Homo sapiens: one gene and its partners. The protein of the gene in region 1 interacts with the protein of each later gene in a pairwise test. Each region holds a gene or a part of one and is shown in the gene's direction. Other genes may lie near its edges. The genes, in order: PRPS1, DCAF1, FAHD1 and PHF5A.

What was found.
Region 2: the proteins of PRPS1 (region 1) and DCAF1 interact in binary tests that used the Homo sapiens proteins (3 or more experiments, as listed by UniProt).
Region 3: the proteins of PRPS1 (region 1) and FAHD1 interact in binary tests that used the Homo sapiens proteins (3 or more experiments, as listed by UniProt).
Region 4: the proteins of PRPS1 (region 1) and PHF5A interact in binary tests that used the Homo sapiens proteins (3 or more experiments, as listed by UniProt).

Annotation. Positions count from the first base shown.
Region 1 is NC_000023.11:107,624,679-107,631,533, forward strand, and holds the start of PRPS1 (ribose-phosphate pyrophosphokinase 1), read left to right. Parts: upstream 1-3,831; 5' UTR 3,832-3,950; coding exon 3,951-4,072; intron 4,073-6,855. UniProt on the Homo sapiens protein: Catalyzes the synthesis of phosphoribosylpyrophosphate (PRPP) that is essential for nucleotide synthesis.
Region 2 is NC_000003.12:51,413,013-51,420,042, reverse strand, and holds part of DCAF1 (DDB1- and CUL4-associated factor 1), read left to right. Parts: coding exon 1-309; intron 310-1,166; coding exon 1,167-1,365; intron 1,366-1,844; coding exon 1,845-1,927; intron 1,928-3,171; coding exon 3,172-3,256; intron 3,257-5,185; coding exon 5,186-5,419; intron 5,420-5,999; coding exon 6,000-6,093; intron 6,094-6,656; coding exon 6,657-6,761; intron 6,762-6,976; coding exon 6,977-7,030. UniProt on the Homo sapiens protein: Acts both as a substrate recognition component of E3 ubiquitin-protein ligase complexes and as an atypical serine/threonine-protein kinase, playing key roles in various processes such as cell cycle, telomerase regulation and histone modification.
Region 3 is NC_000016.10:1,823,164-1,829,416, forward strand, and holds FAHD1 (oxaloacetate tautomerase FAHD1, mitochondrial), read left to right. Parts: upstream 1-4,042; 5' UTR 4,043-4,066; coding exon of another isoform or gene 4,067-4,075; coding exon 4,076-4,741; 3' UTR 4,742-5,747; downstream 5,748-6,253. Other genes in the region: HAGH (hydroxyacylglutathione hydrolase, mitochondrial isoform 1 precursor), read right to left, coding at 3,549-3,624. UniProt on the Homo sapiens protein: Tautomerase that converts enol-oxaloacetate, a strong inhibitor of succinate dehydrogenase, to the physiological keto form of oxaloacetate. It is thereby required to maximize aerobic respiration efficiency by preventing succinate dehydrogenase inhibition.
Region 4 is NC_000022.11:41,459,195-41,465,700, reverse strand, and holds the end of PHF5A (PHD finger-like domain-containing protein 5A), read left to right. Parts: intron 1-5,213; coding exon 5,214-5,303; 3' UTR 5,304-5,984; downstream 5,985-6,506.

The DNA of each region.
Region 1 (6,855 bases):
ACTTGCTCAATAGAGGGTTGCCATAAACCTTCAAGTTGTAAAAAATGCAGTATCTGCAAAGCACAATAAAGCAAAGTGTGATAAAATGAGGAATACTTGTGGCTGGAGAGAGGATCTATAGTGGTCATAAAATTCTCAAAGGGGTCCATAATCTCTAAAAGGACCCCTTTTAATTTAATCTGAGATTTTAATTTAATTAATTTAATTTTAATTTAATCTGAGATTAGTGAATCTCAGATTCACAATGTCTTTATCATTCCTCTTCTTAAACCCTACAGCTACTGGCATAGTTAATGACATTACTAACTTGCTCTCCCAATCTGGTTTGCCTGCCTCCAATCTCTTCTCTATTCTTCACCCCACACAGAAAAGTTTACCTAAAGCACAGTTATGATCGTGTCATGCTCTTACTCCAGAACAGTCAATGGCTTCCTATTGCCTGCGGAATGAAGTCCCAATATGGTACTTGATATTCCAGCAAAACTAAACTATTTTCTCTTCTTCAAAACCTCTCTCTGCTTCCTCATCTTTTCTTCCTGCCTGGGAGATCCACCTCCTCTCAATCATTGCCTGTCAAAACCCTACTCATCAATCAAGGCCTAGTTCATGTGCTTCTACCTCCAAAAATATTTCCCAGGATACTCCATGCAGAGGTGATATCTTCTACCTCTGGACCTGCAGAGCATTTTGTTTGGGCCTTATGGGAGACTTCTAGTTGCATACCCAAAATTCATTCTCTCTTCTTTCTGGGAACAGGGCCACCTAACAAAACATTTCCTAGTCTTTCTTGCAGTTAGGTGCGAATTGTGACTGAGCTCTTGCCAAAGGGATGTGAGAGAAAGTGGGATGGATAAATTTCATCTCACTTGCTTAAAAGGAAATCCCTTGCCTAGACCTCTTCTCTGAGCTAGAATGTGGATGTGTCCATGACCTAGCATGGAGCAGAATCATCCCACTGGCTTAGACCAGCCAGCCTGTTATGCAAGAGAGAAATAATTTGTCTTACTAAAGCCGCTATATTTTAGAGTCTCCTTGTTACAGCAGCCTCCACATTATCCAAGCACAGGCTTCTCTATGGTAGCGTATTACATTGTCTGTGCTTTGTAATTATTTGTATAAATGTCTTATCAACTTTCTTTGGAAGTTAACTCCTAATCGGTCTTCCTGCTTCCTATCTTGCCTCCTACACTCTGTTCTCAGTAGCTGGGGTGATCTTTTTAAAAGGGAAGTTAGATTATGTCACTCTTTGCTAAAAATTCTTACTCAGTTAAAGCAAAAACCCCTAAAATAACCTATAAGGTTCTGCATGATCAGCACTCTCCCCACAATCCCTTTTTTTTTTTTTTTTTGGAGACAGGGTCTCTCTCTGTCACCCAGGCTGGAGGGCAGTGGCGCGATCTCGGCTTACTGCAATCTCTGCCTCCCAGGCTCAAGTGATCCTCTCATTTCAGCCTCCCCAGAAGCTGGGACTACAGGTGCTTGCCACCATGCCCAGCTAATTTTTGTATTTTTTGTAGAGATAAGGTTTTGCCATGTTGCCCAGGCTGGTCTGCAAATCCTGAGCTCGAGTGATCCGCCCGCCTCGGCCTCCCAAAGTACTGGGATTACAGACATGAGCCATCGTGCCCACCTGAGTCCCCCAATCACTGTTTTGTTTTGTTTTGTTTAGACAGAATCTCACTCTGTCGCCCAGGCTGGAGTGCAGTGGTGCGATCTCCGCTCACTGCTGCAACCTCTGCCTCCCAAGTTCAAGTGATTCTCTTGCCTCAGTGGGACTACAGGTGCCCACCACCACGCCTGGCTAATTTTTGTATTTTTTGTAGAGACGAGGTTTCGCCACGTTGCCCAGGCTGGTCTTGAACTCCTGAGCTCAAGTGATCCGCCCACCTCGGCCACCCTGAGTGCTGGGATTACAGGCGTGAGCTACCGTGCCTGGCCGGCCTCCAATCACTCTTATCTCATTGACCTCACTTTCCTCCTTTTCTCTTATAGATACATTCCACCTCCACCACACAACACTCGTCCCGCATTGGTATTCCTCAAACAAGCGAGATACATCTGCCTTAGGGTATTTGCCCTTTCTGTTCTCTTTGCTTATCGAGATATCAACATGGCTCATTTTTTTGTTTTTTTTTTCCTCCTTCAGGTCTTTGCCCAAATGTTACCTTCCAAGACAGGTCTTCTCTGACCACCCTACTTAAAATTGTACTCCTCTCCTCTACACTCTGGCACATTATCCCACTTTCCTTGCCTGATTTTTTTTTCCACAACACTTATTGCCATTTGACATACTATGCATTTTGCTTATTTACATGTTTATTGTTTGAGAATGTAAACTCCATGACAGCAGGGTATTTTTAATTGTTTACTAATGTATTCTTGTGCCAATACACAGGGCCTAGCACATAAAGAATGTTCACTAAATATTTATTGAATGAACGAATCCCTTGGGGCAAATACTTTGTAGTCCCCTCAACGCCTTGCACACTGCCTTGCATGCAATAGAACACTCAGTAAATATTTGATGAATGGCCTATGATGGAAGACTACTAATATTCTGCCTTGCAGTTTACTTCCTTCTCCAAGTATTCCTATATACATGGGCCTACATTAAATTTCTGAGCTTGTAAAAGTGCAAAAAAGGTCAGAAGGAGAAGTCCTCCATGGACACTGCTGAAAATAGCAGTAAGACAAAGACAGGATGCTGCTTTGAGTATTTTCTGCCTTTGCCACTTAGATAAATCCCTCTCCCACCTCCATCTCAGTTTTATCATATGTAAAACGACTATATGATCTCTGAGGTCCCTTCTATTTTTACATTTGGTAGTTATGAGCACTATGGTCACTTTTGATTCCAGAATTGTATGATTTTTATCTTCTCCTAACCCATGCTTAAAATATGCTTAATGGAAACATGGTGCAAGAATAAAGGCTCACTTAGGTCCAATTAACAAGTATCGCTATAAAAATAATAAAACATGGTGTAAAAGGCCACATTAGCAACATGTAGCTGATGACATTGAGGCTTACATGAGGCAGACAGGACTAAAACCCAGGTTTTTTCAAATCCCTTCAGGGCTCTTTATCTGAAGTCCCATAGAACACTATACTTTCTTTCCTTTCCGAGGGCTATAAAAGTTAGATCTTTATTGTCCAGATAGTTTGGAAAATCCATCTTCCTTCACTTGTTTCAACATACTTGGTTCCAGCACTAGAAACAAAACAACTTTCTCTTGCAGTGTCTCTTGGATGATTCAGGTGGCATGCCTTCAGTCACTTCCCCCATGTAAACTGTCTTGCAGGCAAAGGCGACACTGCAATTACAATGGGCAAGCAAACTCCTTGCATGCACGTCTGTGATGTAAAAGTGTTTTAATTCAGCCCCATCCTTATAAAGAGATAAAAAATGTGTTCAGAAACATGCAAACTCGTGGCTGTCATCCTGATAAACAGATTTTCTTAAAGGAAACTGTAAACCAGAGCCAGACTTACTTTCCTGCGCTGAGGGAGGGGAAATAAAAAAGCAGGCATGGTTGATTTCCCGCTAGCGGGAACGATCTGGCCTCAGACGTCACCAGCATCCCTCCACCCCCAGTCCAACGTCTCCTGTCCCCAACAGCCTAGCTACAGGGGGCCGGGCTATGGGTTAGTCTCGCCCCCGTTCATGCTCTTCACCCAATACCTGAGAGAATCGGAAGGAGGCAGAGCTACACCGAGGACCAAACCCCGCCCTTCGCTCCCTCTTAGCTAATCGTTGCCAGCGGGGTGTGGACTTCGCCGCTGACCCCACCTCCGCCGCTTTGGGTAATTTAGAGCCGCGCGCCGGGCGGGAATGTAAGATGGCGGAGTAGCAACGCAAAGCGCTTGGTATTGAGTCTGTGGCCGACTTCGGTTCCGGTCTCTGCAGCAGCCGTGATCGCTTAGTGGAGTGCTTAGGGTAGTTGGCCAGGATGCCGAATATCAAAATCTTCAGCGGCAGCTCCCACCAGGACTTATCTCAGAAAATTGCTGACCGCCTGGGCCTGGAGCTAGGCAAGGTGGTGACTAAGAAATTCAGCAACCAGGAGACCTGGTAAGGACCAAGTTGGGACCCTGACTAGACCTCACCTGCCCAGGCGGCAGAGTATAGGAGGGATGGGGTCGCCGCTTGAGCTCAAACAGACTGGGGGTTGGGGGGAGAGGGTGCAGCTCTGTGACTAGCCTACCCCACGGGCTGTTTCCGTTATTTTACCTCTCGCGGGAGGGTCACGTTCATTCTTACCGTGCGGTGGGGTGGAGTCAAAAGATGGAGTGTGAGGCGAAGCTTCTGCGTTTGAGGGCAAGGGCTGGGGGACCCAATAGATAGTGGCTGCATAGAGCGACGAGAGGGGACCGACGCTTAGCCAGGGCGGTAGGGACACGTGGCTTGGCTTTGCTGTTGAGCCACCCAGGCTGGACTGGGTTGCTTCAGCTCTTAGACTAGCTTGCATTTAGAGAGCCTACCTGCGTACTGAGCTCTCCTGGTCTTTCTTTTCCTAGAGTCCAATAAGCAGCTTTTTGATTCGAAATGGTGTTGGTCCGTTCGGCTTGGTGTTGAGGGAAACTGACATTATATACTGCAGGCGCCAAAATTATTACGACTTCCCTTAGATCAGCAAGCGTTGGCTTTTCTCATCTTATGAATCATCTACCTGAGTAATTGGAGCCATAAATCTAGTTGATTTGTTAAAGTGATGCGTTGACTCTGCATCCTTGATAGCCAGCATCTCAGCTTGAGCCATCCAAAAAATCTTGGAAATCTCAATTCTGGAATGTTTGACCTTCCCCAGTGCAGCTAGTGGTACAGATAATGCAAAAGCGTATTTTTCAGTAACCGAGTCCATCCTGGACTTGGCTCCTTCTTTAAGCTCTGTGTAGGGAATTTAGGAAACAATTTTATACCTGAATGTTAAAGATAATTGAGGACAGGCAATGTAGTGGAAGACTAGGATTGGACAGTGCATTGCAACTTGCGTTTTTTCCATTGCCTTGCCAGTAAAACTTGCTTCCTCGACTCCGACTTACACCCTCTACCGGCACCATGGGACTGTTTTAGAGATGACTTGGTTACCTGATTATTTCAGTGCCCCTTCCACCTAAGTGTGGGATCTTTAGTTTCTGATAGGTGTAATTTGTATTTTATTGTTACCCTATCGATTAAATCAGAGCCCTGCCCACAATCTTACAGATTTGTTAAGGGGAAAGTTTTCACCTAATAATCAGATAAGAATATTTCGAATATTTTTTCCTAAATGTTTTTGCTTACTTTTTTGCTTTCTTTGGACTGATTTCCAAGTTTAACTCGCCTTATCTCTTTTAGACCCAGCTGATAAAGTAATGTCACCGATAATGGACAGCTTCTTCCCGAATTATTGTGCTACTGATTGTGATGCAAATGATAGTGTAAACATTGCCATCTGTAACCAGGCAATACCTTAGTTAAAAGAGGCTTACAAACTGCTGTCTTTAGATTTTTCCAAACCATTATGGCTCATGGGCCTTAATAAAGAATACAAAACAGGACTAGACTTTGTGATTGGCAATATAGTTAGGGGACAAGAATGTTTTTCATTTAGAGGTTTTCTTTGGCCCCTGTGGATATTTAATCCTTTTCCTATGCGTCTAGGAAAAATGTGAAGGCATGAAAGCTTTATTTTCTCCTTGTGTTAATCCTTCTGCCCTCTGCATAATGCAGCACCCCAGAACCTGAGGCTATATTGGGAGAGGAGAGGGGGAGGACAACTTAGTTTTCTACTGATTGATTTCTATTAAGTCCAACATGGATAATTGCTGACTGGTTAGATTTTCTTGTTTCTGGCTTAATCATTAGCTTCTTGTTTCCTAGATATTCTGAAATCTTCATTGAACATAATCACATTTTTTTTTATGGAGTTCCCCCTATCTTTGTTTTTCCTATACTGAAGAAATGGTAACTGCTCCCTATAACTGCTCCCCCAGGTGACTCTTGGTTGATGCTCTCTTGAGCAGAGTAGCTTTTCTTCTAACATAAGGATCATCCTTGGCTGTCTGGTTATTTAGGAAACACACACACACACACACACACACACACACACACACGGAGGGGGTGGGTGTTAAAAGTGCTGAAATCAGAGAACTTGGATCTGAATCCTTAACCTTTCTTTGCCCCAATAATCTAATCTGTAAAGTAGTACCTACCCATACTGTTGTTATGAGGATTAAATGAGATAGAAGTAAAGTTCTTAGGATCTTGTCCAAAACATAATAAGTACAACAGTAAATGTTGACAAGAAGGGGTGGTGATAATATTGCAGAAAATGTGGAAAATTTAGAACACGGAAGGGAGAAGATATGCCTCTTAATTCTGCCACCTGACATAAATGTCACATTATCATTTCTGACCTCCCAGATATTTGTGTAAGATACACTTTTTCAAGAATGTTTAATACATTTATAGCTCTCTTCACTTAGCAATATATTTTGAACAGTTTCTCCCTTTAATATTTAGTATATATGATTTTCTTTTTTTATTATTAAAGATTTTAATTTATTTTTTAGAGATGAGGTCTCACTATGTTGCCCAGGCTGGAGTCCAATAGCTACTCACAGGCACAATCATAGCACACTGCATCCTCAAACTCGCGGGCTCAAGTGATCTGCCTGCCTCTGCCTCTCAAGTAGTTGAGAATACAGGCATGCACCACTGAGGTGGGCTAGTTCATGTAATTTTAAATAGCTATATAGTCTTACCTTATGGTTATGCCATAATTTTATATAACCAAATTCTTATTGGACATTTCCAGTTTTTGATCTAATGCTTTTATATGAAAATCCATGAACATAAATCTTTGACCATTT
Region 2 (7,030 bases), on another chromosome or scaffold:
GCAGAAGTCGGACCATGGTGCCTACAGCCAAAGCCCAGCCATAAAAAAACAGCTGGACAGACATCTTCCTTCCCCACCTACGCTGGACAGTATAATCACAGAGTATCTTAGAGAACAACATGCTCGCTGCAAGAATCCAGTTGCCACCTGCCCACCTTTCTCCCTCTTTACTCCTCACCAATGTCCTGAGCCAAAACAGAGGCGGCAAGCGCCAATAAACTTTACGTCAAGGCTAAACCGCAGGGCATCATTTCCAAAGTATGGAGGGGTGGATGGCGGATGCTTTGATAGGCACCTTATCTTTAGCAGGTAAGAAGAGGCCCCTTCTTACTCCCTGGGAATTGGAATGATTCTTTTATTTAAATCAAACTGGGCAGTATCAGCATAGTTGTCCTGAAATACCACTGATTGTTACTTTGTGTAATACTTGAACAATGTAATTGTACCACCTTTTGTCAACCATGGGTTCCTTGTGTGATTGTTGGCAGTATATTGATATAATCGTTTGTGTTCTCATCTCAACTAGTATGTTTTCTAGAACCCACACCCCCTCATTACTACTGTCCATAAGGAGGCTCCCAAACTTGTGCTGGTGCAAGTTGCTTCCTGTTCTGATTCTTGACAAATCTTACATAAAGGTTACGGGATCACAGGTTTTAAACATGGGAATTTTTTTTTTTTTTGGAGACGGAGTCTCTCTATCGCCCAGGCTGGAGTACAGTGGTGCTATCTTGGCTCACTGCAACCTCTGCCTCCTAGGTTCGAGTGATTCTCCTGCCTCAGCCTCCTGAGTAGCTGGGATTACAGGCAGGCACCACCATATCTAGCTAATTTTTGCATTTTTAGTAGAGATGGGGTTTTACCATGTTGGCCAGGCTGGTCTTGAATTCCTGACCTCAATTGATACCCCCCCTTCGGCCTCCCAAAGTGCTAGGATTATAGGCATGAGCCACTGTGTCTGGCCTAAACATGGGAATTTTTGTTATTTAAATTTGTAAGTGGAAATCTTTTTCTTATTTAAAATAAAAAGCACTGAAGGTCACTGTGATTTTGGAAGAAGCCATTTGAAACATTAATGTTCTGTGCTTTTTCTTCTATCCTAGCAGTTTGCTTTTTCTGAGTCCCTGCACATTCTTTGCCTGTGATTCTCTCTTTTTTTTGCTTAGATTCCGTCCTATTTCAGTGTTCCGGGAAGCCAATGAAGATGAGAGTGGCTTCACCTGCTGTGCATTCTCAGCACGGGAGCGGTTCCTGATGCTTGGCACCTGCACAGGGCAGCTGAAGCTCTATAATGTGTTTAGTGGACAGGAGGAGGCCAGCTATAACTGTCACAACTCAGCCATCACACATCTTGAACCTTCCAGGGTAAGGGTTCCTTCCTAGGATGCTCTCAGTCATTCTTCCAAGATGAATTGGTGAACTAGAGTAAAGGAGGCTTACCCTTTATTGAGCTCTCTCTTTTAAATGAGTCCTCAACTGGAAAGTCTAGTTGAGGTTAATTCATATTTCAGATGGAGACTGAGGAATATGGCAAAGTTAGTAGGAAGAAAGGAACCATCTTTGACATCTTCTCATTTTCCCCCCTCCCTTTTATCTATTCTATTTTTGTGGCTAGTTCAGTAGGATTTAATATTCTCTTAAGTTTGGTTATTTTATAGGACACTATAGGTGTATGTATTCAAATCCTAGTGGCTTCTGACCATTTCTTGGTTTCTGGGGATTATAAAATTGTCTCTTTAATTCAACAACATTTTTATGCAAATCTTTAAAAATGCTAATGGCAGGTAGTGACATCTGCATGTATGTAAATACGTGGTTACCCACCTTGCGCCTTTTTCTTTTAGGATGGGTCCTTGCTGCTGACATCTGCTACTTGGAGCCAGCCTTTGTCTGCACTTTGGGGAATGAAGTCAGTATTTGATATGAAGTATGTATCTGCTTTTGGAACCTAGTCTGTGCTTTATTTACCTAGTTTATACCCCCCTTCATTTGGTTCTTAGACTGGAAGCCTTTTGGGGAAAGAGGATGCTGTCGGTTATTGTTAACTTCTCTCTTCCTCATCTAAGACTCATGTTTAATAAGACTTTATCTTTCTTAATTCCTAGATACTTTTATGAGGTATATACATTCTCATTATGCAGCAGACCCCGACCCAGAATCTATGTATTTTCCCATGTTCACATAGGACATTGCAGTCTTTGCTGTGTCTCCTCTCCTCTCCTCTCCCCTCCCCTCCCCCCTCACCTCCCCTCCTTTTCTCTCTCCTCTCTTCTCCTCTCCTTTCCTTTCCTTTCCTTTTTTTTTTCTTTTTTTTATTTTTTGTGAGACAGAGTCTCGTTCTGTCGCCCAGGCTGGAGTGCAGTGGCGCGATCTCAGCCTACTGCAAGCTCCGCCTCCCGGGTTCACACCGTTCTCCTGCCTTAGCCTCCCGAGCAGCTGGGACTAGAGGCGCCCGCCACCACACCTGGCTAATATTTTATATTTTTAGTAGAGACAGCGTTTCACTGTGTTAGCCAGGATGGTGTTGATCTCCTGACCTTGTGATCCGCTGGCCTTGGCCTCCCAAAGTGCTGGGATTACAGGCCTGAGCCACCGCACCTGGCCTTTTCTTTTCTTTCCTTCTTTAGACGGGGTCTCATTCTGTCACTTAGGTTGGAGTGCGGTGGCACAAACATGACCTACTGCAACCTCCACCTCCCAGGCTCAAGTGATCCTCTCATCTCAGCCTGCTGAGTAGCTGGGACCACAGGCATATGCCACCACGCCTGGCTAATTTTTTGCATTTTTGATAGAGATAGGGTTTCGACATGTTGCCCAGGGTGGTCTCGAACTCCTGAGCTTAGACAATCCACCTGCCTCAGCCTCTCAAAGTGCTGGGATTGTAGGAGTGAGCTACCATGCCTGGCCCCTTTGCTGCGTGTTTCAAAGGCACATGTGCCCTGTTTGTCATTTCTCTAAGGAATTCCCATTCATTATTTTGTATCTGCTTGGTTAAGGTGATAGAAGGAATTTTCTTTGTAATCTAAGTGTATGATTGTTTCCTCTTTGGGAGTCCAGGATCTTTAGGTGAGTGTGATTGTGCAAGAGGCTGGGGGTCACCTGTGTTTCAGTTGGTTGCAGGAATATGTCCTGAAGATCTGTCACTTCAGTGCTCCTGTTGTTTGTCCATAGGCATTCCTTCACAGAAGATCACTATGTTGAGTTCAGTAAGCACTCCCAGGATCGGGTCATCGGCACAAAAGGAGACATTGCCCACGTAAGTACTTAAGAACCACTGTTTTCAAGCTGATCATACCCATTTGTTCATACTGAAATCTTCTTGATAGAATGTGAGGACCTAAGTCCTTTGGGCAACTAGAAATCAGTGATATTCCTTCTAGTTAGAATCTAAAAGTATGATAATATAGTTCTGAGCTGTATGGGAAAAATGTATAAGGGCTAAATGTGACATTGAGAAAGATGTCATTAGCACCACAGATATTTTTGAATTCTTAGTAAGTTTTAGATTAGAAATGAAACCCCTGCCTTTATGGACCCTCATTGGGGAGACAATAAAGAAGCAAATATACGGTAAATTTAGGTGGTAAGTGTTTCAGAGAAAATGAAAGCAGGGTAAGAGGTAGGAAATGCTTGGTGGTGGTGTGGGGGACTTCTCTTTTATCTAGGGTAGACAGCATCACTGATGGGGTAATGTTTAAGCAGAGCCTTGAAGGAAACGCGAGATTCAGGAAGATACCTGGAGGAACAGCGTAAGGCACAGGAAATGGCAAGGGAAAAGCCCTTGCTTGGGAGGTGGGAGGAGAGCTGAGGTCAGTGAGGGGCCTGTATCTGGTAGCATCTTGTAGGTGGTAGTTAGGGCCTTTAGCTTTTTTTTTGAGTGAGATGAAGACACTGGTGGGTGAGTAGAGGATACATGAGTGGATGTAAAGTTCCTGAAGTGTGACTCTGGTTTTTGTGAGAGAAGCAAGAGCAGCCTTCCAGGTCAGAGGGTGTTGTACCACCTGACACATGAGAGGAGCTGTGGGTTTGGGCCTGGGTAGGCATGGTAGAGGCTATGAGAAATGGAGGACCTTGGCCCTGGGATTTTGGACACATGAAATTTGAGATTCTCTTAGACATTCAAGTAGAGAATGGGGATTGAATACAAAAGTTGGGAGCTGGCCAGACTTAGTGGCTTCTGCCTGTAATCCCAGCACTTTGGGAGGCTGAGGTGGGAGGCCAGGAGTTCGAGACCAGCCTGGGCAACATAGAGAGACTCCCCCCATCTCTACAAAAAATAAACAAAATTGGCTGAGCTTGGTGGGCTTGGGACCTATAGTCCCAGCTACTCAGGAAGCTGAGACGGGAGGGTTGCTTGAGCCCATGAGTTGGAGGCTGCTGTGAGCTATGATTATGTCACTGTACTCCAGCCTGAGTAACCAAGTGAGACCCTGTCTCTGAAAATAAAAACAACAAAAAATTGGGAGTTCAAGAGAGAGGTGTGGGTTGGGAAATATAAATATGGGACTTGTCCACATATTGACAGTATTTATTTATTTATTTATTTTTGAGACAGGGTCTTGTTCTGTCACCCAGGCTGCAGTGCAGTGGCACGATCACAGCTCACCACAGCCTTGACTGCCTGGACTCAAGCAATCCTCTTACCTCAGCCTCCTGAGTAGCTGGGACTACAGGCGAGCACCATCACACCTGGCTAATTTTTTTGTATTTTTGTAGAGACGGCATTTCCCCAACGTTGCCCAGGCTGGTCTCGAACTCCTGGGCTCAAGTGATCCACTTTTCTTGGTGTCCCAAAATGTTGGCATTGCAGGCATGAGTCACTGTCCCCAGCTGATAGTATTTACAGCCATGAACTTATATGAGATCATCAAGGGGACTAGAGAAGAGTTGTGGGTATAGAACCCTGGCATGTGTTTAGGAGTTGCCAAATGAGGAACTTGGGAAGGAAATCAAATATAATGGCCAGTAAGGCAGAATGGAACCCCGAGAAAAAGAGGTGCCTGGCCGGGTGCGGTGGCTCACGCCTGTAATCCCAGCACTTTGGGAGGCAGTATTCTGTGGTAATCATTGATCCATGTGGAGAATTTGTGTGTTAATTTTAGAAACTGCTTTGCACATTTTCTCTTTAATTTGTCAGTGGATGGATTGGTCTGATTTTTCTCTTCCCATCCCTTCTTCTCTAAAGATTTATGATATTCAGACTGGCAACAAGCTGTTGACTCTGTTTAACCCAGATCTTGCCAACAACTACAAGAGGAACTGTGCCACCTTTAATCCTACAGATGATCTTGTCTTAAATGATGGCGTCCTCTGGGATGTCCGCTCTGCACAGGCCATCCACAAGTTTGACAAGTTCAATATGAACATCAGTGGTGTTTTCCATCCAAATGGACTGGAGGTGATCATTAATACTGAGATTGTATCCTTTATACTCATGTCTTACCTTCCATTTGTTGTCTGGTTTGTGGTGCAGAAATAATTTGTTCTATCTTTATACCAATACCTGGTTAAAGTGTCCACACTGGTAATAATATGGTGCCTGTCCTTTGGTTTGAAATGTTAGTGAAATCTCCAAAGCACTGTTGCCAATGTTAGTAATTACTGACAACTTTCACTAGCATGTTTTCTATGTATTTGGTAAGAGTGACCAGTTTCCTACCTCCCAGTTCTCCAAGAATTGAATTAGCTTTTATCTGTCTTCAGAAGGATTTTACTTTTGCTCTGTAAAAAATCAGTTGCCACATAAGAGGAAAATGAAGTACTACTGTTGGGAGGAAAAGAGCTCATAAAGCATTCCTGTATATGAGGATACCCTAGGATATTTTCAGAGACATCATTCAATAATATGCATTCTACATGTATTTGTTTTACCTTGATCTCATTGACTTTTAAAGTATCAATACCTGGCAGGAGGAAAAAAAGTGATATTTTAGAATTTCCTCCCATGAGATTAGATAAGTTTTGTGTAAAATAGTTTTCCTTGACCATTCCCCTCCTAGTGGGACCTTCGAACTTTTCATCTTTTGCATACTGTTCCCGCTCTGGATCAGTGTCGCGTGGTGTTCAATCACACGGGAACAGTGATGTATGGAGGTAATAAACCTTATCCTTCATTATTCTCTTTCCTTTTGCTCTACCCCTTCACTTAATTTGATACTTCTTTTTGGAACCATCTCTCACTTGTGAATTGGAAAGCATTTGAGAGTTGTAACATAAAAGATAAAAAATTGATAGTATGAATGGTGACAAAAGATATGAAAATAATGTTGGTTTAGGGTGAAAGGCAGCTTACTTTGAAGATAACAAGGAAATCTTGTATGGAAAGAAATTTCATGCAGTATTTTCCAGTGTATCATTATGAACTTAAGAGCTTTTGCATTTGTCCTCTTGTGTTGTTATAAGCCTTGTAAGTACAGTAACACTTCTTGGAGGTAGATGAGAGGCTGAGGATATTATTTGTCACAATAGGTGGGATATGCAAGGAAGATGCTCTGAGAGGAGCTAACTAGATGCAGAGTAGATTTCTGTACAAGGGAATTTGTATGTAAACCTATATGCAAGTAGATTGTTTTGATTGGCCATTAACATTTTCTGCACTTGTGAAGAGGGGATGTTTGTGATTCCTAATAGTGTTTCCTCCCCCACTCCCCCTCAAGCTATGTTGCAGGCAGATGATGAAGATGACTTAATGGAAGAGAGGATGAAAAGCCCCTTTGGGTCATCCTTCCGAACATTTAATGCAACTGACTACAAACCTATAGGTAAGCAGAAAGGGACAGACATTGAACATTTTGTCGTGTTTTGGTGTTCCTTATTTAAGATCCTTCATTTTCTGGAGGCCTGTAATTTTTTATTGAAAAACAGAGAAGTTATGGAAATACTTTTGAGCAATCATCCTGAATTCCTTTAGAGGAAAAGCAGGTTTTAGGGTCACAGCAATAGTCCAATCCCAATCTTCTCACATTCTATTTTCCAGCAACCATTGATGTGAAACGGAACATCTTTGACCTGTGTACAGACACCAAAGACT
Region 3 (6,253 bases), on another chromosome or scaffold:
GTTCTTGCCGGGAATCCCAGCGCTTTAAGAGACTGAGATGGGAGGACTGCTTGAGGGCAGGAGTTTGAGACCAGCCTGGGCAACATAGCAAGACCTTGTCTTTTTTTTTTTCTTTTTTTTTTGAGACGGAGTCTCGCTCTGTCGCCCAGGCTGGAGTGCAGTGGCGCGATCTCGGCTCACTGCAAGCTCCGCCTCCCAGGTTCACGCCGTTCTCCTGTCTCAGCCTCCTGAGTAGCTGGGACTACAGACGCCCGCCACCATACCCGGCTAATTTTTTGTATTTTTTAGTAGAGACGGGTTTCATGGTGTTAGCCAGGATGGTCTCGATCTCCTGACCTTGTGATCCGCCCACCTCGGCCTCCCAAAGTGCTGGGATGACAGGTGTGAGCCACCGCGACCAGCCAAGACCTTGTCTTTGCAAATTTAAAAATTAGCCAGGCATGGTGGTGCATGCCTGTGGTCCCAGCTACTCCGGAGGCTGAGGCAGGAGGATCACTTGAGCCCAGGAGTTTGAGGCTGCAGTGAGCTATGACTGTGCCACTGCACTCCAGCCTGGGTGACAAGACAATAACCTGTTCCTTAAAAAAAAAAAAAAAAAAAAAAAAAAAAAGGAATATCTTCATATATCCCTGAGGAGAACACAGGAACTAACTCATGCTCACATTCATGGAAATCAATTGTTTCAGACTTACGATCTCTATTTTCTTTTTTGAGAACTCTAAAAGGACAGGAAGGCCAGCTTGTGATTGTGAGGCGAACCACTGCCAGTGCTGGATTATTCACACCCCGGACTCAGGGACAGAATGTGAAGAAGGGAACACAGACTAGGGGTGCCCCCGCCTGGCCATCTGCCCTCCAGCAAGCTGTGCTGCCACCACTGACTAAGCGAGCCTGCGTTCCATGCAGTTACAGCCCTTCTCAGCCTCTAGCCAGAAAGAACCAATACTTGACGGCAGGCTGAGGCAGGAGAATTGCTTGAATCCGGGAGGTGAAAGTTTCAGTGAGCCAAGATCGCCCTACTGCACTCCAGCCTGGGCAACAGAGTGAGACAGTCTCAAAAAAAAAAAAAAACAAACAAACAATACTTGCTCTTGAACAGCACGAATCTGAGATATGCACAAAAATCAGCAGTTCCTTTGAGACGGAAAGTTGGCCACAACTGCCCCCAGATTCAAGTGTGGAGGACACAAAACCACCATCCAACTGACCCAAAGGACTCTGCCACAGGGGCCCAGAAGGCCCAAGAGCTGGGAGGAGTGGGTGACCAAGGGACAAAAGTGTCTGCCACCCAGTCGACCAATGCAAAAATATTTTCAGCAATGAAACTCCTACTAAATCTAAAAATACCTGGGGGCCCCGACAATACCTTCAGTTCCGCTCTACACGGGGAAGAAACCACAGAAGGTGGCAGAGGACAGTGCAGTCCTGGGGTAGGTGCCACGGCAGGGGCTTCTCCCAAAAGGGATCCAGAAATGGGCAGCAGCCACCAACTGACAGACACACGCGTCTCCAGGGCCCACCGAAATGCGGAATCCGACCTTATTTCCACAGCCGGGGAAACTGCCCAAACTATAGTTTCAATCACTGCACAAAGATATCCTATTACCCGCCTGACAACCAGCTGGGCATTTTCCAGATCATTCTCCTCAGGAACAATAATACCAAGATTTCTATATGAGCAGCTTCCTGTGTTATTCCCCTTCCCCTTAGCCTCAGCACCACCCCAGCCCAAGGAGCACAACAAGCAGAGTGTGGGTGCTGGGGGCTGCAGGTGGGGTGCAGAAGGGTTGTGACAGGATTCCGAGTGCCGGGCGTCCTCCTGGAAAGGAGCTCCATTACAAACAAGGAGCAGAACATTACAAACAAAAATACTGCCCACGTGCGGTGGCTCACGCCTGTCATCCCAGCACTTTGGGAGGCCGAGGCGGGCGGATCGCGGGGTCAGGAGTTCGAGACCAGCCTGACCAATATGGTGAAACCCTGTCTCTACTAAAAAATACAAAAATTAGCTGGGCGTGGTGGCGAGCGCCTGTAGTCCCAGCTACTCAGGAGGCTGAGGCAGGAGACTCGCTTGAGCCCGGGAGGCAGAGGTTGCAGTGAGCCGAGATTGGCCACTGCACTGCCCAGGCGAAGAAAATGTCATTTACAACTGGTGCTCAGCCTCCCCTGGAGACCATCACAGCCTCCTGAAGAAGCTGACAACCCAGGGAGGTGCCTTTATTTCTGAGGAAAGACGCAGCTGGTGCCAACACCAGCAGAAACCGTATTCCCTTTCCATATCACTCAGCCCAGCACTGCCTGGCAAATGTTCCCGGCTTGCTGTTTTGTAACTGTAATACTTTGTACAAACAGGTCAAGGACCTGCAGCCTGGGGCCTGGACCAAGTCCAGAAACATGTTCGGTTTGGCCCCAAAAACAAAAAAAAATTGAGATATGGTCTCACTCTGTCCCCTAGGCTACAGTGCAGTGGTGCGATCAAGGGTCACTGCAGCCTCGACCTCCTGGACTCAAGCGATCCTCCCACCTCAGCCTCCAAAGTGACTGAGACTACAGTTGTGTGCCACCACGCCCGGCTGATTTTGTTTAGTTTTTGTAGCGATGAGGTCTCAACATGTTGCCAGGCTGGTCTGGAACTCCTGGACTCAAGCGATCCTCCCGCCTCGGCCTCCCAAAGTGCTGGGATGACAGGCGTGCGTCACTGCACTTCTTTTTTAAATCAGGAAGTTTCACAGCATCTTGCTTCCCTTGAACTGGGCGGCACCAAATACGGGGGCTGGGGCCTCCCTTAGAATGGGGTACGCACGCCCTGCCGATGCACACAGTCCCGCTGGAACTCTCTGCCTGGACCCTTATGAATGTCCCTAAAACTGTAATTCTGAGGACCTCAAAATCCATGTCCTTTCCTTAGCAATGGCGACATTCTACCCCCTGCAGAGCCTTGACAGCTTTCGGCGAGATCTGGAAACCGCCAGGGACGCCTCCCTGTCTGCGCCTCCGCCCGCCCAGTGCCCTGCGCTGCGCACCCGCCCGGGGCGCTGGCCTGGCCCGGCCGCGCGACCACCTCGGGCGAATGACACGCCGGGTCCCCAGACGGGGGCTCCGGCGCCGGGCGGGCAGCTCCACCACCGCAGGCGGCGCCGCGAGACCGCGGTCCTTGCAGCGGGGCAGCAGGTGCGGGGTGGGCCAGGCGTCCCGGGGCCCTGCCCGCTGCGCCTCAGAGCCGCGCCCCAGGCTCTCCTCGGCGCCGGCCCGGGCAGGACGCGATGCCCTGGAGGCGTCAGGGGCGCGGCCGGCCCAGCCCGAGCGTGGAGGCCGCGGCGGACGCAGGCCTGGCCCTGCTTACCTAGCGCTTTCCGCACCCGCGGCCCCGCGCCCGCTCCGCGCCAGCCTCAGCGCCTGCGCCGCCTCCGCTCGAGCCCGGCAGCGCGGCCTTAGGCACCTGCGCAACAGACACCGCGTCAGCGGTCGCCAAACGACGGCCCGGCGCCGCCCGCTGCCCGCCCCGCCAGGCCCGCGTCCCCCGGCCCGCACCGCCCCGCCGCACCCACCGAGGCCTCGGCGGGCGCAGGCGGCTCCCAGCGCGGCGAGGCTGCGGCGGCCGAGCAGCCCTCGGCCCACCACCATGACCCGGGCCGGGCTGGACTGCCGAGCTGCCCAGGACTGCAAAACACCGGCGTCGGCGCGTCGCAGCCAATCAGCGCCCGCCTCGCGCTGCCCTCAGCCAATCAGCGTCCACCTCGCACCGTCCGCCAACCAATCAACGCGCTCGCGCTCAACTTGTTTTGTCCGCGAGCCCCGACTGCCACGGGCCGGGAGACGGGCCTGGGAGCGGCGGCGGCGGCCCGAGAGCTGCGCCGGGAGAGCTGTGCCGCGAGCCTCCGCCTCTTTTTTGGCACCGCACAGTGGATCCCTGGAGGCCGAGCGCCACGCCGCCCGGGTACCCGGCAGATCGCGAGGTGGAACGGGCCGTCGCTGCGGGGGACAGCGTTCCGAGGCAGTTGGTCCTCTCCGGGATGCCGTAGGCATCAGCTGACCGGCCCAGCCCACGTGACTACAGGGGCACTTGATGGGAATCATGGCAGCATCCAGGCCATTGTCCCGCTTCTGGGAGTGGGGAAAGAACATCGTCTGCGTGGGGAGGAACTACGCGGACCACGTCAGGGAGATGCGCAGCGCGGTGTTGAGCGAGCCCGTGCTGTTCCTGAAGCCGTCCACGGCCTACGCGCCCGAGGGCTCGCCCATCCTCATGCCCGCGTACACTCGCAACCTGCACCACGAGCTGGAGCTGGGCGTGGTGATGGGCAAGCGCTGCCGCGCAGTCCCCGAGGCTGCGGCCATGGACTACGTGGGCGGCTATGCCCTGTGCCTGGATATGACCGCCCGGGACGTGCAGGACGAGTGCAAGAAGAAGGGGCTGCCCTGGACTCTGGCGAAGAGCTTCACGGCGTCCTGCCCGGTCAGCGCGTTCGTGCCCAAGGAGAAGATCCCTGACCCTCACAAGCTGAAGCTCTGGCTCAAGGTCAACGGCGAACTCAGACAGGAGGGTGAGACATCCTCCATGATTTTTTCCATCCCCTACATCATCAGCTATGTTTCTAAGATCATAACCTTGGAAGAAGGAGATATTATCTTGACTGGGACGCCAAAGGGAGTTGGACCGGTTAAAGAAAACGATGAGATCGAGGCTGGCATACACGGGCTGGTCAGTATGACATTTAAAGTGGAAAAGCCAGAATATTGAGTTATTTCTTAACAAGTTTCGAGAGAGAAGGGAGCAAGACAAGAGCAAGCAACGGCTATTAAATGTCACAATCCTTTAATTAGAAACCATTTATTGGCCGGACGCGGTGGCTCACGCCTGTAATCGCAGCACTTTGGGAGGCCGAGGCGGGCGGCTCACGACGTCAGGAGATCCAGACCATCTTGGCTAACAGGGTGAAACCCCGTCTCTACTAAAAATACAAAAAATTAGCCGGGCGTGGTGGCGGGCGCCTGTAGTCCCAGCTACTCTGGAGGCTGAGGCAGGAGAATCAATTGAACCCGGGAGGCGGAGCTTACAGTGAGCTGAGATTGCGCCACTGTACTCCTGGGCAACAGCGAGACTCCGTCTCAAAAAAAAAAAAAAAAAAAGAAACCATTTATTTTAAAAATGATTAGATTGCTATGCCTCAACTCATAGAAGATGAACCCTTCAAGAAAACGTGAAGTAGAACGGGTGGGCCAGAAATGAAAACAGGCAAGTAAAGTATTTCTTCGGAAAACATTTTATCAAACCAAATGTTAAAAAGACTTTCCTTTTGTAAAACTGGATTAGAGAAGACTTTTCAGTGGGTTATCTCTAGGATGATCAGTAGTTCAGCACTTAAAAACTGCAGAGAAAACTGAAAGTTATGTTCCAGATAACTTTCCGTTGTTTACCAAATTTTCTTAGATTTGGTCATCATCAGGAAGCATTTGTAAAAATAAAAATCTCCACAAATTACTGGCCCATCTCGGACTTGCTGAATCAATTTGATAGGATTAATCTCCAGTGAAGCTGTGTTTACAGGGCATTCCAAGTGATTCTTATCAGGAAATGTGAAAAACACTCCTGTACATAATCGGTTAATTTAAAATTTTACTTAATAAGTGAACAAGTAATGAAGATTTCACCTGTTTACTTAGGGTATCTACCCAGACCCATCGATTCTGAGTTCGGGAGATGATTTTGAAATTACTGTTTTCCAAATAAAGGTGCTCCCTTCTAAGTGGCTTACAAGGGTAATTTTTTTCCCCCCAGTAATGACGAGGAGGGATATTTCCTCCTTGTGGGGCTTCAGACCTTAGTCTTTGACCTTTGGCCTTCTGAGCACTGTGCTGTGTTAACACAGTTAATCAGCAACTGTACTTCCCAACCGGAGATAAGGAGGCTTTGTGGAAGTTGAATAGCCTGGGACTGCTGCTTTTGCTCTTGCCTGCACCCTCCTCTGAAAAAACATCCAGGCAAGATGCACAGCATAGCTGTCAATGCCTGGAGGAGTCCTTTGGGCTTCGGCAGGGGTTCCTGTTCGCGTTCACATCATCTGCTGGCCCCTGAAGAAAGCCTAGGACATCTGATTGAGTAGTAACGGTCCCCATGTATTGAACACAGTACTGTTAGGCACCATGCCAAGCAGTTTATTCTGTATTTCCACGTGTTATGTAACCAGCAACCAAGCCATAAGCTTAGTATGATCACTACCATCCCCATTACTCAGATGAAGACAGATCTAGA
Region 4 (6,506 bases), on another chromosome or scaffold:
ACTATGCTGGCCAGGTTGGACTCAAACTCCTGACCTTGCGATCCACCCATCTGGGCCTCCCGAAGTGCTGGGATTACAGGCGTGAGCCATCACGCCTGGCCTTATGTTGTCCTTTTACAAGTGTTTCTGGGATGTGCCCATGGTGAAGGCAGTAACGCCAGTACCTCATTTCACGCACTTGGATCCTGCCTACCCCCAGTAAGTGGGAGAGATTGGGCCAGATAAGACCACACCATTGGGCCAGGCACAGTGGCTCATGCCTGCAATCCCAGCACTTTGGGAGGTTGAGGCAGGTGGATCACCTGAGGTCAGGAGTTTGAGAGCAGCCTGGCCAACATGGTGAAACCCCGTCTCTACTAAAAATACGTGGTGGCACACATCTGTAATCCCAGCTACTTGGGAGGCTGAGGCAGGAGAATCGCTTGAACCCAGGAGGCAGAGGTTGCAGTCAGCTGAGCCGAGATCACACCATTGCACTCCAATCTGGGCAACAAGAGCGAAATTCCTTCTCAAAAAAAAAAAGTGAGTACACCATTGAATCTTCTGTTGTTTAGGGAGATGAGAAAGGTCCTGAAGTACCAAAAACATAATGATTTGGACCTTTCTCTTGTCCTCAACTCTGATTTGCATTTACCTTCAACTATCAAGTCACATTCTGCTGTCCGAAAATCCAAATCTAGTCTACTAGCTAGATTACACTTCATTAGAGGCAGGACTTTGGTTTGTCTATTTGCCTCTCCTTTTCTTTAGGTCATGATACAGTGCCTGACATGCGGTGCAAGCATGGTACTTGTATTTTGGTGCTGTCCCTGTAAGTCATCCAGAGGTATCCCCTGTAGGGTGTCTAGCACATAGTAGGTGTTTGTTAATTACTTCTGGTCTATAAGCAGTGAAAGCATGATAAGGTAACAGCAGTGAAGAAAAGTAACAAACAGTTCCTAAACTAGATACAGGATATCTGTTTAAGCCATTTAAGACAGCATTTTCTTGAATTTTTGCATGGGTCTAGCTAGAGTTCTTATGTAGCGTAAGCTTGCAACCAGAGAATGCTTAATAAATGTTAATTGCTGTCTGACTCCTCTGAATGTGGTGTGTGAACTGATACCTTTGGATCCTCATGCCTCATTCTGTCCCTGAGACTTATTCTAGATGTCACTTCCCCTACTTCACATTATACACGAATGTTCTGAGGACATTTGAGATGGAATCTAGCTCACATTTTCAGCACTAGTTTCCAAGGAACACAAAGAAGTCCAGTGACATGATCCAGGCTCTCAGCCTTACAGATCATCATGTAGATTAAGTGGCCGAGGCTCTTTCCTATGCAGAAACCTTCCTACAACCAAGGTACCCCTTGTTATTATTGTCTTCCTGCAACTTTCATAATTGATAAGGGAATTAGACAGGTAAGCTAAGCTAGGTATTCTCATTTATAATTTTTCAAAGCCACAAGAATAACCAGGAGACAGGGATGATGTCTATGGACATTGCTACCAGAGGACTGATTTGTAGGTTCTTATGGTGCCACATCATGTAATCCCCTTAATCTTGATTCCTTTATTCCTTTTGTTTACCATTTTCCTCAGTTCGCCCAACCAGAAAATAAGAAAAATAGCACTAACATTTATGAAGCTCTTAATATATGCAAGGTACTTAGCTGAACATTGTTTTCCAAAAGTTCTGTGTGATACAGATGAGGATGCTAAGGCTTAGAGATGTTAAGCAACTTGGTTAGCCCAAGGTCACGTGGCTAATAAGTGACAGACCCAGGACTAGGGCCTAGGTGGTCTGACTCTTTTTTTTTTTGAGACGCAGTTTCTTTCTTGTCACTCAGACTGGAGTGCAATGGCACGATCTCGGCTCATTACAATCTCCGCCTCCCAGGTTCAAGCGATTCTCCTGCCTAAGCTTCCCAAGTAGCTGGGATTACAGGCACATGCCACCATGCCTGGCTTTTTTTTTTTTTTTTTTTTTTTGAGACAGAGTCTTACTGTGTCTCCCAGGATGGAGTGCAGTGGTGTGATCTTGGCTCACTGCAACCTATGCCTCCTGGGTTCAAGCAATTCTTCCGTCTCAGCCCCCTGAGTAGCTGGGATTACAGGCGTGCACCACCACGCCTGGCTAATTTTTTGTTTTTAGTAGAGACAGAGTTTCACCATGTTGGCTAGGCTGATCTTGAACTCCTGACCTTGTGATCCACCCACCTTGGCCTCCCAAAGTTGCTGGGATTACAGTCATGGACCACCGTGTCCAGCCTAATTTTTGTATCTTCAGTAGAAATGGGGTTTCACCATATTGGTCAGCCTGGTCTCAAGCTCCTGGCCTCAGGTGATCTGCCTGCCTCGGCTTTCCAAAGTGCTGGGATTACAGGCGTGAGCCACCACGCCCGTCGTGACTCAGTGTTTCTTAACCTTTTATTTTTTTTTTCTCATCATTGCACCCCTAAGGAGAAAGGTTAAAAGTTAATGTAAATTAATTAAATTTTGGGGCTGGGCAGGAGCCTACCATCTTAAAGCTAAGCTGTAAGTAGGCCAGGGGCAGTGGCTCACGCCTGTAATCCCAGCGCTTTGGGAGGCCCAGGTAGGCGAATCATGAGGTCAGGAGTTCGAGACCAGACTGACCAACATGGTGAAACCCCATCTCTACTAAAAATACGAAAACCAGCTGGGTGCGGTGGTGGGTGCCTGTAATCCCAGCTACTCAGGAGTCTGAGGCAGGAGAATTGCTTGAACCCAGGAGGCAGAGGTTGCAGTGAGCCCAGATAGCGCCACTGCACTCCAGCCTGAGCGACAGATGAGACTTCACCTCAGAAAAAAAAAAAAAAAGCTAACCCGTAAGTAAAGAACAGAGCTGTGCAGATTGGAGGATTGGGTCATACCATTACTTGGTACCTTCCAGGAATATTTGGGTATCTATAAGGATAGTTTGTAAACCTTGACCTGATCCAGTCTTCTTCTTTTGCAGCTGAGGAGTAATATAAGTCCCAAGAGAAGCAACTTGCCCACATTTGCACAAGTCAGTAAGGCACAGTTTAAGCTATCATCATATCATGAGTTTCATAGCCTCTCTAAAGAGTTGAGAGTCCTGTTATTATGTCTAATATCAGGCCTTTGTCCAGGAGAGGCAGCTAGTGCCTCATTTTTACGAGGACATGAAATATAGATTACGTTGCTTACTTGGGTTCACCTAGCAAGCTATTGGTAGGCGGCTTCCTTGGTACACCAGGCTTCAGAGATGGAAGTGCTCAATGTAATGACTCGATACTTCTTTTCTAGGAGATCCTAAAATGTTAGTGTTAGTTGCAGAGATTTTTGTAGTTGTTGATGTCTGCCCCCAAAGAAGGATATTAGTTGAGTTAGAAATGAGATGGCTAAGGACTTGATTAATTCATACTATCACCTAATATCACAGGACTCAAACTCTGACATGGGTGTTTAATAAAATCAACAGACCTGTAAGGGTTTTCCAGTTACAGCTTCCCCGGTTTTTCTCCCATCATCCCTAATCAACTGATGGAGTCATCATTTCTATATAACACAGCTTCCCAGGGGCTTCACTGAAAGCACTCAAGCTCATCAAATGGCCAGGGCAGCCTGTCATGACAAATTAGTGCATGGTCTGTCAACAGCCATCTATCTCTAGCCAGTAGTGCTCTGTACCCCCAAGACCATGTGTCAAATTAAGTGAATTAATGAAGACACATAAAACCCATTAGTCTCCTATGGTATTTAAAATGTAAGGGCCAGGCACGGTGGCTCACGCCTGAAATCCCATCACTTTAGGAGGCCGAGGTGAGTGGATCAGGAGGTCAAGAGATCAAGACCATCCTGGCCAACATGGTGAAACCCCATCTTTACTAAAAATACAAAAATTAGCTGGGCATGGTCGCGGGTGCATGTACTCCCCACTACTCGGGAGGCTGAGGCAGGAGAATTGCTTGAACCCGGAAGGCGGAGGTTGCAGTGAGCCGAGATCATGTCACTGCTCTCCAGCTTGGCAACAGAGCAAGACTCCGTCTCAAAAAAAAATAAAATATAAGGTATGGCCGAGCACTGTGACTCACGCCTGTAATCCTAGCACTTTGGGAGGCTGAGGCAGGCGGGTTGCCTGAGCTCAGGAGTTTGAGACCAGCCTGAGCAGCATGGTGAAACCCTGTCTCTACTAAAATACAAAAGAAATTAGCCGGGCATGGCGGCGTGTACCTGTAGTCCCAGCTACTCGGGTGGCGGAGGTTGCAGTGAGCCGAGATCGCGCCACTGCACTCCAGCCTGGCGACAGAGCGAGATTCCTTCTCAAAAAAAAAAAAAGAGTTTCATAGTCTACCTCAACTGTGTCATAGCAGCAGACATGGCTGAGAATCCAGCATTCTACATGAATTGCAAGTCATTGGATAGAGGGTAGGCAGGCCCTGAGCACATTCTTAGGTGTTTAGTAAATTATTGATGATAGATCAAATAGGATAATTGGTAAGATAAATGGCTAAACCATTAATCCAAAGGTTATAAAATGGTCTTTTTTTCTTTTTTTGAGATGGAGTTTCTCTCTTGTTACCCAGGCTGGAGTGCTGTGGCGTGATCTCAGCTCACTGCTACCTCCGCCTCCTGGGTTCAAACGATTCTCCTGCCTCAGCCTCCTGAGTAGCTGGGACTACAGGCACGCACCACCACGTCTGGCTAATTTTTGTATTTTTAGTAGAGACGGGGTTTTACCATGTTGGCCAGGCTGGTCTCGAACTTCTGACCTCAGGTGATCCACCTGCCTCGGCCTCCCAAAGTGCTGGGATTACAGGCATGAGCCACCGTGCCCGGCCTATAAATGATCTTTCATAAGTGCTAAGAGATAGGGAAGAAACAGTGCTGATCTGGGCCTCCCAATTAAGGAGATAACTGGTGTTTGGACACATTTACAAACCCATTTATTGAGTTCTTCAAATACTAAGATGAGAATTTGAACTCTGTGACCAATTTTTTTTTTTTCAAGAGATGGGGGTCTCGCTATGTTGCCTACAGTGGGGTACAGTAGCTGGCTATTCACAGGCATCATCATAGCCCACTAGTCTCGAACTCCTGGGCTTCAGCAATCCTCCTGCCTCGGCCTTCGAGTAGTAGCTGGGACTAAAGGCACATGCTACCACACTGGGCTTAAATTTTTTATCTTAAGTCACTCTTGGTTCAGGCTCAAAGACTTAACAACTTCTCTGTTCTGTTTTCCAGAGAGATGGCTGCCCAAAGATTGTCAATCTGGGGAGCTCTAAGACAGACCTCTTCTATGAACGCAAAAAATACGGCTTCAAGAAGAGGTGATTGGTGGGTGGCCCCTTCCTCCCCCCAACATCAGTCTGCTGCAGCTGCCAGAAAACATGCCTACTACTACCAGCAGAAAGGGAGCAGAGCCCAGAGCATCACCAGGAGTGCCTGCTAGTGTACTGGCAGCTTGCCACCCCCTCCTCTCCCTTCACCCAGACACGTGGTAGGGATGGAAAAGGATTCTTCACAGAGCACTCTGGCACACCATATCGGAGAAAACTTGATAGATTAGTTAATGGTTTTTCTTGAATTCGAGAAGCAAAGATCTGTTCTCCATATTGGTATGTTCTCCCTCAACCAAGATCTTCTAAAAAGAAATAATATTTTAGTCTTCTGCTTGAGGAACTGACTGTGAAGCGACGCCCAGTGAAAAACATGTTCTTGCAGCAGCTCTGGTGGCAGCTGTCCTTGAGGAACCTTTGGTGTGTGGTGGGAAGCTATCAGAACAAGAAATGTAGGCATTTCCCGTTTTTTTTGGGGGGGGGGTGGGGGGGCAGGGCTCTGCCCTCTTGAAAGGCATTTACTTGTTTAACACTTGTCCAGCTACAGTGGGGTACAGTAGCTGGCTATTCACAGGCATCATCATAGCCCACTAGTCTCATATTATTTTCCTTTTGAGAAATTGGAAACTCTTTCTGTTGCTATTATATTAATAAAGTTGGTGTTTATTTTCTGGTAGTCACCTTCCCCATTTAACTTTAACTCTAGGAATTTATTTTAGTCACCCAGGAATTTGTGATTCAAAACAGAGGTAGTGGGATTGGTTAAGTACTTTGTCCTCTTATTACCACTGGAAGGAATTCAAAACCACCCATACCTTTCATTATAGATAGATCAAAGTCATCTTTAGAAACGTACTATTTTTTCCTTCCTGTCCAACTTTAATTTTGAACTGAAGAGATAGCTTCCAGTTATGGTGGAGGCTGGGCACAGTAGCCCATGCCTGTAATCCCAGCACTTTGGGAGGCTCAGGCAGGCGGATCTTGAGCCCAGGAGTTCAAGACCGGCCTGGGCAACATGGCAAAAACCCATCTCTATGAAAAATATGAAAACTAGTCAGGTATAGTGGCATGCACCTGTAGTTTAGTCCCAGCTACTCAGAAGGCTGAGATGGGAGGATCCCTTGAGCCTTGGAGATTGAGGCTGCAGTGAACAGTGATCCCGCCACTGCACACCAGCCTGGGTGACAGAGCAAGACTG